Linked DNA regions of Homo sapiens. The protein of the gene in region 1 purifies or fractionates together with the protein of each later gene. This does not show direct contact. Each region holds a gene or a part of one and is shown on either strand. Other genes may lie near its edges.

What was found.
Region 2: the proteins of SEPHS1 (region 1) and TPD52 fractionate together in Homo sapiens (co-fractionation; one large-scale study listed by BioGRID). This does not show direct contact.

What each region holds. Positions count from the first base shown.
Region 1 is NC_000010.11:13,319,915-13,325,227, forward strand, and holds part of SEPHS1 (selenide, water dikinase 1), read right to left. Parts: intron 3,134-5,313; coding exon 2,921-3,133; intron 1-2,920. UniProt on the Homo sapiens protein: Synthesizes selenophosphate from selenide and ATP.
Region 2 is NC_000008.11:80,049,007-80,054,319, forward strand, and holds part of TPD52 (tumor protein D52), read right to left. Parts: intron 4,425-5,313; coding exon 4,276-4,424; intron 3,670-4,275; exon of another isoform or gene 3,600-3,669; intron 2,623-3,599; coding exon 2,521-2,622; intron 2,265-2,520; exon of another isoform or gene 2,246-2,264; intron 1,466-2,245; coding exon 1,439-1,465; intron 1-1,438. Other genes in the region: TPD52-MRPS28 protein, read right to left, coding at 2,521-2,622, 4,276-4,424.

The DNA of each region.
Region 1 (5,313 bases):
GGGCTTCAATAACCCATGTGGTAGCTATTTTTTCCAAGCTACACTGAAACAAATATTGACAAACAAAAGGGAACTTTTGATTCTCTACATCGACTCTCTCATTTTACCGAGAATGCTTTTTTGTATTTTTAGAAAATTTAAGACTCATGAAACAGTGTATGCCCCAAAGTATCTAGGTTCCAGTCATGACTCTGTCATTATATCCAAAAGACAAACAGTATAAAATACATTAAAATAAACCTTTGTTGCTCTTTCCAGTAAATAGGCCATAAATTTTTTTTTTTTTTGAGACGGAGTCTCGCTGTCTCCCAGGTTGGATTGCAGTGGTGTGATCTCGGCTCACTGCAAGCTCCACCTCCCGGGTTCACACCATTCTCCTGCCTCAGCCTCCTGAGTAGCTGGGACTACAGGCGCCCGCCACCACACCCGGCTAATTTTTTGTATTTTTAGTAGAGACAGGGTTTCACCGTGTTAGCCAGGATGGTCTCGATCTCCTGACCTCGTGATCCACCCGCCTTGGCCTCCCAAAGTGCTGGGATTACAGGCGTGAGCCACTGCACCGGGCCAAAATTTATTTCTCTAAGTAGAAATAAGATGATGAGGAAAAACTGTAGTCTACTTCTACAAAATGTAAAAACCTTGTGGCTGGGCATGGTGGGTCACACGTGTAATCCCAGCACTTTGGGAGGCCGAGGCGGGTGGATCACCTGAGGTCAGGAGGTAGTTCAAGACCAGCCTGGCCAACATGGTAAAACCTCGTCTCTAAATTAGCTGGGCATGATGGCACAGCCCTGTAATCCCAGCTACTCGGGCTGAGGCAAGAGAATCGCTTGAACCGGGGAGGGGGAGGTTGCAGTGAGCTGAGATCGCGCCATTGCACTCCAGCCTGGGTGACAAGAGGAAAACTCCATCATAAAATTAAAAACTTCCTATTTCTGAAGAAAGGAAACAAATTTAAATGGCTGGTAACATTCGTCAATTCATTCAATTTCCATTCAGTGCCCAATTATGTGGCAGACACTGTCCTGGCCAGAGCCTGAACCAGCAGGGGAAAAAAACCCTGCCCTGTTGGAGCTTACTTCTAGAAAATGGTTTGTTTTTTTAAACGGGAGGCTGAAGCGTCCTCTATAAAGGCGGTGAGAGGCCTGGCAGAGTCCTGAAGCCCCCTCGCCACAGCACAGGTCGACGTGACCAGGGCTTTGTGGTCCCAGCACTGTGGTCCCTTGCCCCGGCCTACTACGGAATCTCCCAGGCAGCCTTCACAGATGCTGAGGCCCAGGCCCACCCGAGATGGATCCCACCGTTTTTGGGAGGCTGGGGCTAGGCATGTGTATTTTTCTTTTTTTTTTTGAGACAGAGTCTCACTCTGTCGCCCAGGCTGTAGTGCAGTGGGGCGATCTTGGCTCACTGCAACCTGTGCCTCCTGGGTTCAAGCGATTCTCCTGCCTCAGCCTCTGGAGTAGCTGGGATTACAGGGCACACGCCACGACGCCCCGCTAATTTTTGTATTTTTAGTAGAGACAGGGTTTCACCATGTTGGTCAGGCTGGTCTCGAACTCCTGACCTCGACCTCCCAAAGTGCTGGAATTACAGGCGTGAGCCACCAGGCCTGGCCGGCATGTGTATATTTAAAATCCTAAGGTGATTCCACTCTTTTGCGGGTAGAAAACTAGAGTTCTAGAGGAAAGGAAATAGAAAAAGAGAGAAACCGAAAAAAAGGGAAAAACAGGGAGACTTAAAAGATGAAAACAGTAAAGGTAAAGGGAACAAAGGGGGCAAAAGAGAAATGGTACTTCAGGAGGACGCGCCATCTGGCTCCAGCTGGGGCTGCGGGAGTGGGAATGAGCGATGGCGAGCCTGTAGGCTGTGGGTGGCGGCCTCGGCGGCCGGCAGGCCATGCTGGAGTACCTGCCATGATGAAGAGGAGGACGTCCCACAAGTTCCGGACAGATGTGGCCACCAAATTAATCAGGAAACAAAAGGAGCTTAATCTTAGAAAAATGATAAGGGATATAAAAGCTCCCTAGGAGTCAAACTACTGGGGCGTATGGTGTCAGACCTGCACTGCTGTCTGATGGCTCTCTCTACCTACGCTTGCTCCATCTCCCGTTTATCCTCCATTTATGTTTCCTCTAATAAATTACTGCACATCTAAGAAAAAAGAAAAATGGCATTTTAAAGACATAATATCCTATTGCATTCTTTTTTATTCTGTATCATTCTCTTTTCTTTTTTTTTTTTTTTTAAGGCAGAATCTCGCTCTGTCACCCAGGCTGGAGTGCAGTGGCGCAATCTCGGCTCACTGCAACCTCTGTCTCCCAGGTTCAAGTGATTCTCCTGGCTCAGCCTCCCAAGCAGCTGGGATTAAAGGCATGGACCACCACGCCCAGCTACTTTTTTTTTGTATTTTTAGTGAAGATGGGGTTTCACCATGTTGGCCAGGCTGGTCTTCAACTCCTGATCTCACGTGATGTGCCTGCCTCAGCCTCCTGAGGTGCCAGTATTACAGGCAAGAGCCACCACACCTGGCCCCTTTTCTCTCTATCATTCTTAAAACAACGTTAGACAATTTTCAAGGAAAAAAATATCACCTGTTCAAAGTAACCTAGGGGTATTACAGTTAATTTCAAATGCGAAGCTTTCAGTAAAAACTGAATGCTACCTTATTTCCCCCATCACCATATCCTTGCATCAAAAAGAGCACAGGCCACTCAACCTCAGCAAGGCTGCTGGATCCACCCAGGATGGCGGGGACCAGACCCACCGGGAGGAGGAAAGGCACCAGCTGCTGCGGAGGCCGAGGTCAGCAGCATGGAACTCGAACAGAGTGGGGGCCCACTCGGGGTGGGGCTGCTGCTTTCTCGCTGAGCTTTCTGTTAGCCTCACTATTTAGTCCTCAGATGCGCCCAGCATCCTGTACCTGAAGTCTCCGGGCAGGTCCCGTGCATGAGGCCGAACATGTTTCCGCAGGCCTTGCTCACCGCAGCCATCTTGGCCAGCACCGGGAGGTTGTGAATTACAAACGACACCTCGTTCCTCTGCTGCTTGGCCAGGTTCTGCGCATGGCCCAAAATCCCGAAGCCCGTGATGTCAGTGGCGGCGTGGGCATTGAACGTGTGCATGAGTCCTGCAGCTGGGAGAGAGAGGGGGCGGCTCTGAGAAAAAACACCTTTCCTCAACTCAAAAATCTTACGTCCACAATTAATCTGCAACTTCCTTACTTGTCAGGGAGATGACGTATCGGAATAATGAAAACGCAATGTAAAATCAACCAAAGACATAGTGAAATTCCAAAAGTTCTTATTTCACTTTGAGCCACCTGAAAACTATCAGAAGCTTCAATTAATAGTAGTTTTCCAGTAAACTAAAAAAACTATGCAGAGGGATTATGATCTCAGTGGAAGGTAAACCGGCCAAGACCATCCTAAAACCAAAGACCGGCACTTTTTTCCTTTTTTGAGATGGAGTCTCGCTCTGTCATCCAGGCTGGGGTGCAGTCGTACGATCTCGGCTCACTGCAACCTCTGCCTCCAGGGCTCAAGTGATTCTCCTGCCTCAGCCTCCTGAATAGCTGGGACTACAGGTGCGCACCACCACGCCCAGCTAATTTCTGTATTTTTAGCAGAGACAGGGTTTCACCATATTGGCCAGGCTGATCTTGAACTCCTGACCTCATGATCCGCCCGCCCTGGCCTCCCAAAGTGCTGGGATTACAGATGTGAGCCACCACACCCGGCCAAGACCAGCACTTTTTAAGAAGGCCTTGCTCAGTATCAAGGTACTCCCGCGAAAGGTGAATTGCGTGCAAGTTTATTTTTAAATTTCTTTCTTTTTTTTTTTTTTAAGAGACAGAGTCTTGCTCTATTGACCAGGCTGGAGTGCAGTGGCATGATCATAACTCACTGCACTTGGGCTCAGGCAATCGTCCTGCCTCAGCCTCCCAAAGCGCTGGGATCACAAGTGTGAGCCACTGCTCAATAATATTCCATACTACAGATACACTACATTTTGTTTATCCATTCATCCACTCACCTACTATTATTTAATTATCCATTCACCCGACCTATTATTTAATTTTAAAAAAATTTACAGACTTTATTTTTTGGAGCAGTTTTGCGTTTAGAAAGAAATTAAGTGGGAAGTAACAAATCCTCAGTGCTCTGCTCTACCTGATCCCCTTCCTCTCCGATAACCTCTGGCCACCACTGATCCTTTCTGCATCTCTACAGTTTTGCAGAATGTCATGCAGTTGGAATCCTTCTGTATGGAGCTTTTTCAGACTGGCTTCTTTCACTTAGTAATATGCACTTAAGATTCCTCCACATCTTTTCATGGCTTGATAGCTCATTTCTTTTTACTGCTCAATTATATTCCATCATACAGATACACTACATTTTGTTTATCCATTCATCCACTCACCTACTGAAGAAATGAATGGCTGCTTCCAAGTTCTGGCAATTATGAATAATGCTGCTATGAACATTTGTCTGCAGGCTTTTGTGTGAATGTAAGTTTTCAACTTTTTTGAGTGAATATCAAGGAGCACAATCGCTGCATCATATAATAACATATTTAGTTTCATAAGAAACTGCCAAACTGACTTTTAAAGTGGCTGTGCCAGTTTTCAGTCCTACCAGTAATAAATGAGAGTTCCTTCCTGTTTCTCTACATCCTTGCCAGCAGTTGGTATTATCAGTGTTTTTGGGTTTTTTTTGAGACAGGGTCTCGCTTTGTCACCCAGGCTGGAGTGAGGTGGTGCGATCACAGCTTACTGCAGCCTCGACCTCCTGGGCTCAAGGGATCCTCCCAACCTCAGCTTCCCAAGTAGCTGGGACTAAGGCGCAAGCCACCATGCCCAGCTAATTTTTTGTATTTTTTTGGTAGAGATGGGGTTTCACCATGTTGCCCAGGCTATTCTCAGTGTTTTGGATTTTAGCCATTCTAACAGGTATGTGGTGGCATCTCAATCACTGCTTTAATCTACAGTTCCCTATTGACGTACCACACTGAAGGTTTCCTTTTATGCTTATTTGCCATCTGCGTTATCTTCTTTCATGGTGTCTGTCAAGGTCTTTGGGCCATGTTTAAATTGAGTTGTTTTTTATTATTGAGTTTTAAGAGTCCTTTGTATATTTTGGATACCTGACCTTGAACAGGTATGTGTTTGGCAAAATTTTTCTCCCAGTCTGTGGCTTGTCTTTTCATTTCCTTAACAGTGTTTTTCACCGAGCAGAAGTTTTTTATATTAATAAAGCCAAACTTAGCAATTTTTTAATAGATAGTGCTTTTGGTGTTATAAAGTCATCACCAAAC
Region 2 (5,313 bases), on another chromosome or scaffold:
ACACACTGAGCCATATCTAGGTATGGCTTTAAGGTATAGAAAGGTATTCTTTAAAGGTATAGAAAAGTCTAGTGATATGTACTGAAGAAACATCATCCTCAATAGCCCTTACTTTTATATCTTACACTGATGTTTGCATCACATCGAACATTTTATAACCAGTACTGATAAGGCTCTTCCATTCTTAACTTATCCCAAGTCCCCACTCTTCCCCTACTCCACTCTAAGATTTTAAGCTTCATTCTAATAAAAGCCATGCGTTCTTTATGGTTATGCCCATGGAACCTGTCCACAGTAGACACTCTAAATGTTAGCAGAATGGGTGATGTGACTGGCTCTGTATTCAGTTACTTATAGCACTTTTTAACTGAATGCCAACGATACACAATCACCTATCATTGGTTACTTGATTTTTTAAGCATAATTTTAGCTTTAAATAGTTCAACATTTAGAGTTTATATATCCCTATAATTTACTCTGACTTCCAGGGGTAAGTGTCACCAAGATAGGAGCTTTAAGTACCTGTTTGCTTACTTAAAAAGGCAAGCAGCTAGACTACCATGAGTGATTGCTTAAGAAAATAATCTGCATCCATAGGAACAGAGATGAAGACTACTATATCATCCTTCCTGCTTATACTCTAAAGACTTTCCTCCACCTTAGTTTCCTCCAACAACTAATCAGATAATCAAAGAGTCTGCCTGGGAAAGAGAAAGGTTTCCTCAACATCACAAAGTCTCTTTCTATAAGGCATGGTTTGAGCTAACATCTTTTTAATGTGCTTTTTTTAGCTTAATATTCTTTTCCCTTTTTCAAACCATGAAGTTGCCTTGTGTACATAAAGAATATAACAAGTGTAAAGAAAGAATAAAATCATAAAAACTATAAGCTAGTAAAACAAGTATTAAAAAGTGCAGAGTAGTGGCAGATTTTACCTTATGTATATTTTACCACAACAACAAAAAAAAAGGTAGAGTAACCAATAGAAGATGGAAGACTAACATCAGGAGGCAGTACATATGCAGTCTGTTACAATTGTGTAATGAAACCCAGGTGAAGAATTCCAACATCCTTACAAAAGTACCAAAGAAACAAAAGCATCAAAACAAACAAAGTCAGACATTAAAAGGGAGGAATTTTGCATGCCATGGTAAAGCTGCTTCTTTTTACCAAAGAAAAAAGTAAAAAAGAAATGTCAAAATCATTTCCATATCCCTTGAACCACAGTGTCAAATACTTCTTTTAATTTATCAACTACCCATGGTATACAAGAAACCCTCCCTTGAAATTAGGAATGCACTAGAGAAAAAGATACTCTAAACGCAAGAAAATTATGTACTGGACAAACACGATCATCCAACGTAGCATGGTAATCTAATCTCAGCACACTTTTCTTATACAACTGCTGGACTGCAGTGATGGTTCAAACTCTCCTTACCTAAAGGAATGTGAAAAGGCTTGCAATCTGTAAGAAGCCAGAGTAAGCATTAAAAAAGAAAGAAGTTCTGATAAATCTAAAACAATTAAATAACCTAAGTTTTAAACATATAATGTTTTCCCTGGGCTCTAAACTGCTACACAATTCAGTCAGCATAGAGAAAATGAACACCTAATAGATACATACATAATTGTCAAAAGAGTTCAAGAAAGCTATATTTATTACATTATGCTTAGACAATGACAGTCTAAATATAATGAGCGAGGAATTTGTTCTTTTGGTGTAAAGTATAACACATAAATTGACCAAATCTATTCAACCAAGAAATTCTGGTTGTAAGATATACACTTTCCCCACAAATGCAAAACACGAAGCCATGCAATCTGAGCATTTTTTTTTAAACACAAATCTTGCATGCCAACAGAAGCACAGCTGACTTAAACCACATTTGTCATTTTCATCACTATCCTAATCCACATGAGTGAAGGGGGGGCACAAAAGCACTGTGAAGTGGTTTTATAAAAATGGCAAGGAAAACTCTGCAGACTAATCTAAATGAAAAAAAAAAAAAGCAACAACTCAAAATCAAGATTTTGGCCTAAGCATGAACATAGTTACAGCTTACCAGTTAGAATAAAACAGTGCACAAATGAGCATGTTGTAATCACACCATGATATAAAATGTCACATATAGAACGTGAAGCCAAATCTGAATCGAAGCGTGCACTTCAGTGCTCCTGTAGTCATCCTTAGTAACACACCAGGCTCTGCCCACAATCACAAATTTGCAACCAAAGACATACTTACCCTGCATGATCATGAAGAACTAAAAAGACAAAGAAGTTCACAACCAGAATTTTTCAACAACCTTAAATGATCATCAGATGATCATTTGATGTTAGAATGCTAGGCCTAGAAGACCTTAGATGAGCCTTCCAGGTACTGGTTTGAAGGAGTGCCCTCCCTCACTCTAACAGGAGTAGCTAGCATCAACTAGAGCCAAGGTCAGGAAACAGATGCAACAACAATAACATTTTAATTTGCGTCAGCTACTTAATGAGCAAGGAAAAATGAGGACATACTTTACATCTTCCAGCTTTTTGGTGATGACTGAGCCAACAGACGAAAAAGCAGCTGAGGCCTTCTGTCCAGCCTGGGATAAGGTTTCAGATGTCTTCTTGTAACTATATTAAATTATAAACACACAGAGCAAAAGAAGGGTCAGCTCATCTTTTCTAATATCAATTGTTTCAAGTGCAGTGGTCACCACCTGCTGGAGAACTCTCAAAAAGAGAAAACATTTTTCAGAACTTCTAAAATCCTTCATAACCAGCAGAGCGGCATCACCACATCTTCGTATGCTCAACCCTAAGCTCAGGCACAATCTTCTGCAGTGCCCTAGTCCAGCCAGAAAGACAGAGTCCTATAAAGGCAGGGCCAAAGAAGTCAAGGTAAGGGCTAAAAATAATCATCAAACCAAGATGAAAATAAGCAAAGGCCTGAAAGAACTCATACCTATTGTTCTTTTCTCACATAATCCAAACAAAACAAAAATGAAATCAAATTCCTCAGATGCCTTTGTCAACTTGATTTCCTAAAAAAGGGCCAGAAGCAATTAGTAGCTGGCGTAAGTAGGACCCATTTGTATTTTATTATCCAAATACATTTTATGGGCATACTTTCTAAAAATTTTTGCATGTCTTTAGAGAGCTACCAAATACGGACATGATGGACTTTCAACAAAGTATGTAAAATATGCAATGCTTAAAATTATTCTAGTGTGGTATCTGCTATCACGCAAAGCTATAATTTACCACCTCCTTCCCAGCTACCTGGAGATTAGAGAAGAGAAAAGCAAAAACAAAAAAATGATGACAACAACAACAACAAAAAACAAAATAATATCGTACCTACCAAAACAATTCCCACATTATGGGAAAGAATGCTCAGGCATTTTTACTTACCCTGTCAAGATCAAATACCAATAAAAAAACATGGTTCATGGTAATACTGTTGAAAAAATAGTTTCCTGTATGTTTTCCCACTGCCAACTTAGATGGGTAGAAAATGGACCAAAAGACTGGGGACTCAAGTACTGTCATGTTAAATGCAGTTGGCCTCACTTCTGATAGTTAAATTGTAAAACAACTTCTGTGCTCACCAGCTCTGCAGATGGCTCTCAATACAGAAGACAGAGCAGTTCGGTTTCTGCTGCTAGAAGCTTGCTCCTCCTTGTGCCGGGAAACAAAACTGCATTATGATAATGCTATATCATAGCATGTGTGGTCAAAAAGACAAAAAGCCTAAGGGATTGACCTCTGCCAAGAGCATATATCTGAGACTACGACCTGAGAATCTTTTGATACCTACACAACAAGGTTAAAAAAATACATTAATAATAATAATAAAGACTGGCTCCAGACCTGAGTTTGAATTCCCACTCCACATTTTGAGAGGTTTGTGACATGAAAACTTAATTTGTCTGAGCCTGTTTCCTTATCCAGGGTTATCTTGCCACCCATTCTTACTGGGTTATTCTGAGTACTAAAGGACAAAATGTACATATTTGTGGCAAGTCAATACATAACACTTATGGGATTTGAATTTTATTTCTCCAACTGGCTAGCTTTCTTTCTATTCCTTAGAATAAGTGGTCTGGAAAAATTGAAGTTACAAAAAAAGGCAGGCACACTTGAAAATCAGAAAAAAAGGGTGCCGTGTCGTCCAAAGAAAAGCTGCTGAAGCATCCTTATCCTCTTTTTCTTCCCCTCTCCAGACAAAAGGCACAACAGTGTCCTTTACACTCCCAAGGAAAGTGTATGATCAAGGAAACATACGCAGATGTTGCTGTCACGTCTTGCCACCCTTTGGCAATGTTCTGTTTTAGTTCCTGTAGAGAATTGATTCCAAGTTTCCGCTTGATCTCTGCTAGATGCTTCTCTTTTGCTGCTAACACTTGAGACAGAGTCTGGATTTCTTCTTCTACCTATGAGGAAGGGGTTTGGGGTAAGAATATAGCAAAAGTCATTCAGTAAGTTAAGATTATTACCACAGAACTACATCCAAAATTCCAGTCATTAAACATTTTTTTGAATCATTTATCTTTCTCTCTAAAAACAATGTATAATGTTGTTGAGTAAACTGGTTACTTGCTGATCTCTCCTGTAGAGTTCTCTTTCCTCCTCCATGGGAGCTCTTTATAATCCCATCTTAAGCTGTTTTTGGCCTTCTCCTCTCTCCCTATACTTCCTTACTCAGCTATCTCATGTAGGTTTAGGACTCAAATTTCTACACAGATAATACTTAATAAAGCACTCTAACATCCACTCTCCCGACCTGTGGGTCTGCCTTCCCAGCCTAGACATTTCTATCTGAATGCCTACAAAACTTGTATTTGTATACTAAATCAAAATAATCTCCATCCCCTACCAAAACACACACAACCAAGCCAAACCCAAATCCAATCTCCTTGCATATTTGATATGAGTATATATACTGGATACATATACTCAGTCCCTGTGTCTGGCAAAGTCATGGCCATAATAAATCAAACCGCCTCCTCAGGAGATCCCTGCTCTCAAGGGTTTCATGTGAACCCCTTGATGCTGACTGCCCAGACTTGACTAGGTGGTTAGAGGTGGGCCCTGACCCATGGACAGCCACCCATCAAGAGCCAGTGGATGAGCCCAGTGTGAAAAGAGGTGCTCAACTATTCGTCTCTCTCACTCAGGAATCTAGTTTGAGAAGTGAGATGACATTGCAAGTAGAAGCTGAAAAAACTTGAAGAAGCCTTGAGGTATAGGTAGGCTACAGTGAGATTATGAGAGGTATGGAAAGCTTAAATATGCTTGAGGAATCTAAAACTGTAAGCAGAA